Homo sapiens: one gene and its partner. The protein of the gene in region 1 interacts with the protein of each later gene in a pairwise test. Each region holds a gene or a part of one and is shown on either strand. Other genes may lie near its edges. The genes, in order: CDH15 and SGTA.

Region 1 (3,806 bases):
TTGTGCCCAGAGGACGGTGGGGGTGGGGGGGACCCAGGCCCAGGATCTCGGGATCCCCACCCTGTCTCGGCGCGAGGAGGGCAGGCGAAGTGGGGGCGGCCTCGGGAGGCCCTCGCTCACCACAGGCGCCCTCCGCAGTGAGCCACGCGCGCCTGCGGCCGCGACACCAGGTCCCCGAAGGCCTGCACCGCCTCAGCCTGCTGCTCCGGGACTCGGGGCAGCCGCCCCAGCAGCGCGAGCAGCCTCTGAACGTGACCGTGTGCCGCTGCGGCAAGGACGGCGTCTGCCTGCCGGGGGCCGCAGCGCTGCTGGCGGGGGGCACAGGCCTCAGCCTGGGCGCACTGGTCATCGTGCTGGCCAGCGCCCTCCTGCTGCTGGGTGAGTGAGCGCCCCGCCTCCACCTGGACCCTCGGACCCTCGGACCCTCCTCCCCAGGCCGTCCCCTGCTAACCAGCCACGCCGCTTCCTCCCCAGCTCCGCCTCCTCCCTAACCCCGCCCCCTCATTACCAGCCACGCCGCTTCCTCCCCAGCTCCGCCTCCTCCCTAACCCCGCCCCGTCATTACCAGCCACGCCGCTTCCTCCCCAGCTCCGCCTCCTCCCTAACCCCGCCCCCTCATTACCAGCCACGCCGCTTCCTCCCCAGCTCCGCCTCCTCCCTAACCCCGCCCCCTCATTACCAGCCTCGCCGCTTCCTCCCCAGCTCCGCCTCCTCCCTAACCCCGCCCCCTCATTACCAGCCTCGCCGCTTCCTCCCCAGCTCCTCCTCCTCCCTAACCCCGCCCCTCAGTACCAGCCACGCCGCTTCCTCCCCAGCTCCTCCTCCTCCGTAACCCCGCCCCCTCAGTACCAGCCACGCCCCTTCCTCCCCAGTTCCACCTCCTCCGCAACACCACCCACTCATTACCAGCCACGCCGCTTCCACCCAACCCGCCCCCTGCTCGCCAACCCCGCCCCCTCATTACTAGCCACGCCCCTTCCTCCCCAGCTCCGCCTCCTCCCTAACCCCGCCCCCTCATTACCAGCCACGCCCCTTCTCCACTGCCGCCTCCTCCCCAACACCACCCACTCATTACCAGCCACGCCGCTTCCACCCAACCCGCCCCCTGCTCGCAAACCCCGCCCCCTCGTTGCCAGCCACGCCTCTTCCCCAAGCCGGCCTCTCCTTACCAGCCAAGCTCCCTCCTCCACAACCCGGCCCCCTCCTCCCTAACCTCGCGGCTTCCTCCCCAACCCCGGCTCCTCCATGCCAGACACGCCCTTTCCCCAACTGCCGCCCCCTCAACCCCACCCCTGCTTACCAGCCTTGCCCCGCCCCGCCCCCTCCTCCCACCTCCTTCGCAGCCCGGCCCCCTGAAGTCGCGCCCTGTGCCTGGCCCCAGCCTGCGTCCCCTCATTCCCCAGTGCTGGTCCTGCTCGTGGCACTCCGGGCGCGGTTCTGGAAGCAGTCTCGGGGCAAGGGGCTGCTGCACGGCCCCCAGGACGACCTTCGAGACAATGTCCTCAACTACGATGAGCAAGGAGGCGGGGAGGAGGACCAGGTGAGGGGGCAGGTGTGGGTGGGGAGGGGTCCCCAAGGAACCCAGGTCGCGGGCCTTCTTACAACAAGCTGGCCAGGAGCCTGTACCTGAGACCTCCACCAGGGCCACCCGAGGGATGCCTGGCTCTGTTCCACCTCCTCGCCCACAGGACGCCTACGACATCAGCCAGCTGCGTCACCCGACAGCGCTGAGCCTGCCTCTGGGACCGCCGCCACTTCGCAGAGATGCCCCGCAGGGCCGCCTGCACCCCCAGCCACCCCGAGTGCTGCCCACCAGCCCCCTGGACATCGCCGACTTCATCAATGATGTAGGTGCTCCTGGGGACACCCCAGTACACACAGGCACGCACAGGTGCACACACACATGCACATGTACACACCTGCACATGCATGCAAGAACCGGCGCCTGCATGCACTTATGGGCCGTCCCAGAGCACCGCAGAGGAAGATGGTGTGCGGGCGGGAGTGTGGAAGCCCCGCTGCCACCGTCCAAACTGGGCCCTCAGCCTCCACCCGCGACGCGGGTCTTTGCACAGATGGAGTGGCGATGGCCACAGACCCATCCACTGCCCCGTGTCCACCATGGAGGGGGTGGGGGAGCCCCGGGAGCATCCCCTGGGCTTCGGTGGCTGTCAGCGGAATCAGGGCCTCCATAGAAGACCCTCTGGACACAGCGTTAATGATTCCCTGCCATCCACAGGATGAATGTGCACACGGGGAATCTGGGGTGTGGGGCGCACAGGGAACCCTCCTCTGTGCCTGTCTGCACCTGTAGCACCTGGCTCAGAGAAAGCCCCCAGCCAAGGTGTACACCCCCGGTTAGGAGCGTGTGTCCCCACGAGCTGAGAGGACAGACATGCAGACAGAGCCTCCGAAAGGCAGACGGGCCGTTCTGCGGATGGGGGTGTCCAGGAGGCTCGGGTTCTGCCTTGAGTGGACAAGGGCCACGGGGAGGAAGAGACCAGGGTGAGGGGGAGCAACCCCTTCCCACCTTGCTGGGGCAGGGCAGAGCCCCGGGGGACGGGCTGGCCGCTGGCCTAATACTGAGGAAGGGGGTAGTCCGTGGCACCCTCTTCACAACCCTGCTGCTGTGCCCTCAGGACGCTTTGCCTCCCCTCAGACCTCGCCCCCGGACGTGGGCAGCTTCCCCTTCCTGAGCCCGTGCCTTGAGCTGACTTTGCCCTGGGCTGTGGCCACGGCGGTGGGGCACCCGCTGGCCCCTCCATGTGTCTTGAGCTCTCCGGGCCTCTTTATAGGGCTTGGAGGCTGCAGATAGTGACCCCAGTGTGCCGCCTTACGACACAGCCCTCATCTATGACTACGAGGGTGACGGCTCGGTGGCGGGGACGCTGAGCTCCATCCTGTCCAGCCAGGGCGATGAGGACCAGGACTACGACTACCTCAGAGACTGGGGGCCCCGCTTCGCCCGGCTGGCAGACATGTATGGGCACCCGTGCGGGTTGGAGTACGGGGCCAGATGGGACCACCAGGCCAGGGAGGGTCTTTCTCCTGGGGCACTGCTACCCAGACACAGAGGCCGGACAGCCTGACCCTGGGGCGCAACTGGACATGCCACTCCCCGGCCTCGTGGCAGTGATGGCCCCTGCAGAGGCAGCCTGAGGTCACCGGGCCCGACCCCCCTGGGCCTGGGGCAGCCTCCTTCCTGTAGGCGAGGGCCCAAGTCTGGGGGCAGAACCTGAGTGTGGATGGGGCGGCCAGGAAGAGGCCCCTTCCTGCCGGGGTGGGAAGAGTTTCTCTCCATCGGCCCCATGCGGGTCACCTCCCTAGTCCCACCTTTGCCTCCTACCAGTGAACCTCATCTTTGTATGAAAGACAGCAACCTCCTGGGTAAATCTGAATGAAAAACGTGCTAGTCTCTTTCATGCAGGACGGGCGCCCACTGCCACACTGACCATGAGGGGGATGGGGCCAGTGAGGCCTGGCCTGGCAGGGACCTGAGGGCCAGGCCCCCATACCACCCTGCTTGGCTGGGGCAGGAGGCGGCCGGGGGCTGCCACTACCTGGACAGGGGCTATGGAGCAGCCGCTGACACCCTGGCTCCTTGCTGGTGAGCCCAGAGGTGGGGAGCAGGCACAGGTGAGACCCTTCCAGGCCCCAGGTGTGGCCTGAGGGAAGAACCAGGGAGGACGCCAAGTTCCACAGAAGCCTTTATCCTCCACACCTACTGGGTGTGGCTGGGGGGAGACCCAGGGCCTCCCAGTGCCTGGGGCCTGGCTGGAGACACCTTCACGCTGTCCCCACGGCTC
Region 2 (3,806 bases), on another chromosome or scaffold:
ACCGAGGGCAGAGATGGGTGACGCGGCCACACGGCAGGGACACCGAGGGCAGAGATGGGTGACGCGGCCACAGGGCAGGGACACCGAGGGCAGAGATGGGTGACGCGGCCACACGGCGGGGACACCGAGGGCAGAGGTGGGTGACGCGGCCACACGGCAGGGACACCGAGGGCAGAGGTGGGTGACGCGGCCACACGGCAGGGACTCCGAGGGCAGAGGTGGGTGACGCGGCCACACGGCAGGGACACCGAGGGCAGAGATGGGTGACGCGGCCACACGGCAGGGACACCGAGGGCAGAGGTGGGTGACGCGGCCACAGGGCAGGGACACCGAGGGCAGAGGTGGGTGACGCGGCCACACGGCAGGGACACCGAGGGCAGAGGTGGGTGACACGGCCACACGGCAGGGACTCCGAGGGCAGAGATGGGTGACGCGGCCACAGGGCAGGGACACCGAGGGCAGAGATGGGTGACGCGGCCACACGGCAGGGACACCGAGGGCAGAGATGGGTGACGCGGCCACACGGCGGGGACACCGAGGGCAGAGGTGGGTGACGCGGCCACACGGCGGGGACACCGAGGGCAGAGGTGGGTGACGCGGCCACACGGCAGGGACACCGAGGGCAGAGGTGGGTGACGCGGCCACACGGCAGGGACACCGAGGGCAGAGGTGGGTGACACGGCCACACGGCAGGGACTCCGAGGGCAGAGATGGGTGACGCGGCCACACGGCAGGGACTCCGAGGGCAGAGATGGGTGACGCGGCCACAGGGCAGGGACACCGAGGGCAGAGATGGGTGACGCGGCCACACGGCAGGGACACCAGATTGCCCTCACGTCCTCACAAGGAACGAGCCCCGACAGAACCTTGATCATGGACTTCCGGCCTCCAGGACTGAGAGACGATGAACTCTGTTTCAGCTGCCTGGTCTATGGCACTCTGTCACCGCGGCCCCAGCAAACCGACACTAACACCTGGCAAGCAGGCATCTCAGGACGCACCTCAGTCCTCGTGACGACTCCAACAAGCGGGTCGGCCCTGTCTCCAGCTGAACTGAGCCAGGTTGGGCAGGGACGCGTGGTCGCATGCCCAGGATCACATAGACAGGAGAACAAACGGGCTGTCATCACACGGAAGGGAGCAGTGAAGGGCGGTGGCCGAGGGACACGGAGGGAGGGAGCAGCTGCGCGTTGCTCACTGTGCTGCGGTCCCAGGAGCCAGCTGCCCGAGGGGCAGCTTCTTTTATAAGAAAACGACACTTCCTATCACGTCTATGCAAATGTCCATTTTAACTTTAAGTGCACAGATGTCTAATGGCCCGAGACACGTAGGTTAACACCCGTGCACGCGTACACAGAGGCCTTCACCTACAACCATCCCCGTGTAGACAGCATCAGAGGCAGGGCACCAAAAGCATTAAAACCATGCAGATGACCTACCTGAGCACTTCGCAGACCTAGAACGTCAACTATGTAAAATACCTGCCCATGAACATTGGCAAACTCCTGGCCTCAAGCAATCCTCCCACCCTGGCCTCCCAAAGCGCTGGGATCACAGGTGTGAGCCACCATACCCGGCCTCCTCCAGGAGGCAAATGCTGAGGAAAGCCGTGGATTCTACTGACCCACTGGATTTTGCTGAAGCTGTGTGCGCGCGCATGTGTGTGTGTGCGTGCATGTCTCTCCAGATTCTGTCTCTCTCCCAGACCAGCGGTTCTCGATGGATGTGCTGAGACACTTGGTGTTGTCTCACATGGAGTGGGGGGAGGCCAGGGACGCTGCTCAGTGCCCTGGAGTGCCCAGGACGGCTCCATCCCAGAGGATGATCCGGCCTCAACATCCACAGCTCCCACTGGGAGAAAGCTGGACTAGAAGAGGAGGACCTGAAGAGCCTGTGGGTGCACCAGGCCCTTGACACAACACCGTCTCATGACCTCGGCGCAGTGACCTATGCGGCAGGACTGGGGATGGAGGTGTTCACTCAAGGCCACTGGAGCCACAGGCACGGCAGGATCCGCGCCCGGCAGGCGCCTGACCTGCCCCCACACTCAAGATCAGAGGCGTTCAGTGTCTTGGTTCCCCTAAAATGCCTCTACATGAGGTGAACAGCCACCACCCCCTAGAAAATGAGGCGTGGGCTGCCTGACCGCATAACCCACCCCGCGCCAGAGACAAGCAAGGCATTGGCCCGCCACGCTTTAAACAGTGGCTGACGTCAGACTCAGATGACACCGGCGACGTGGACCTCCACGCCACTAAACAAGCATAGTCCCAGACACACTGGGTGTGCCCACAGCTTTGTTTCCCTTTCAGGGAAAGCAACATCCATCAGCAATCATTAAAAAACAAAACAAAACAGAGAGCAAAAGAGCCAGACCCAAAGCACACACAGGGTGTGACACCGACTCCATTTCTATGAAATGTCCAGGACAGGCCCATCCAGAGACAGGAAGGAGACGCGTGGGTGCCGGGGCTTGGGGAGGGGAAGGGGAGTGACAGCTGGTGGGGACCAGCTTCCTTGCTCCCTTTTGGGGCGATGAGACAGCTCTGGAACCAGAGAGTGGTGATGGTTGCACAACCCTGTGAAGGCACCAAATGCCACTGAATTTCACGGTGTGGGGATCACAGCGGTGTGGGAATCACAGCTCAATGTTTTAAAGGGGGAGAAATCTACAAGAGCTGTGTTTTGTGTCGCTGGACAGGGAGTTACGGTCTTCCTGAAAGCTCCTGCGGGATGGTAATGAGTTTTCCGCCCCCATCTCAGGACACAATGGACAGCCCAGAACTTTGAGGTCTGGGATCAGGACTGCCTAGAGCCGGCGGGCAGCCAGTCCCAGAATCCAAAGATCTCATGTACGACACATCAGGGCCCACGGCAGTCAACCACCACCAGAAAGTGAAACCACAAAAGCTGACGTCATCCGCCCCGGCCAACAGGGTTCAGAGAGCAAACCAGTCAGGTCTCCTGACCCCCAAGCCCAAGGAAAACAGACACATGCCACCCGAAAGGTGAAGATTTTTGGTTTACGGAGTTTCTTTTGTTTTATTTTTAAGCACGTTTTGACAACAGCATTACAATAGCCAAAAGCAAACAGCCCAAGTGTCCACGGACAGGTGAGTGGATCAACACAATGTGGCCTAGCCACACGACGGAACGCTACGCAGCCATGAAAAGGAAATCCTGACCAGGCTACAACATGGGCGGACCTTGAGGACGTCGCACTCAGTGAAATAAGCCAGAAACAAAGGTACAAAACCTGTGTGACTCCCCTCCTAGGCGGTCCCTAGAGTCGTTGGATTCACAGAGACCAAAAGTGGAATTGGGGGTGCCAGGGGCTGGGGAGTGAATGTTTCATGGGGACAGAATTTCAGCCTGGGGAGATGAGAAACTTCTGGAGATGATGGTGGCGATGGCTACATAGCTGTGTGAATGTGCTTAAAGCCACTGAACTGTGCATTTATAACTGATTAAGATGGTAATTTTTGGCCTGGCATGGTGGCTCACGCCTGTAATCCCAGAACTTTTGGAGGCAGAGGCAGGTGGATCACCTGAGGTCAGGAGTTTGAGACCAACATGGTGAAACCCCATCTCTACTAAAAATGCAAACAAAATTAGCCAATCATGGTGGCGCACACCTGTAGTCCCAGCTACTCAGGAGGCTGAGGCGGGAGAATCGCTTGAACCCGGGAGGTGGAGGCTGCAGTGAGCTGCGATAGAGCCACTGCACTCCAGCCTGGGTGGCAGAGCAAAACTCCGTCTCAAAAAAAAAAGAAAGACTGGTCGGGCACAGTGGCTCATGCCTGTAA

The links.
Region 2: the proteins of CDH15 (region 1) and SGTA interact in binary tests that used the Homo sapiens proteins (3 or more experiments, as listed by UniProt).

What each region holds. Positions count from the first base shown.
Region 1 is NC_000016.10:89,192,067-89,195,872, forward strand, and holds the end of CDH15 (cadherin-15 preproprotein), read left to right. Parts: intron 1-138; coding exon 139-378; intron 379-1,403; coding exon 1,404-1,540; intron 1,541-1,688; coding exon 1,689-1,847; intron 1,848-2,795; coding exon 2,796-3,089; 3' UTR 3,090-3,426; downstream 3,427-3,806. UniProt on the Homo sapiens protein: Cadherins are calcium-dependent cell adhesion proteins. They preferentially interact with themselves in a homophilic manner in connecting cells; cadherins may thus contribute to the sorting of heterogeneous cell types.
Region 2 is NC_000019.10:2,773,203-2,777,008, forward strand, and holds part of SGTA (small glutamine-rich tetratricopeptide repeat-containing protein alpha), read right to left. Parts: intron 1-3,806. UniProt on the Homo sapiens protein: Co-chaperone that binds misfolded and hydrophobic patches-containing client proteins in the cytosol. Mediates their targeting to the endoplasmic reticulum but also regulates their sorting to the proteasome when targeting fails.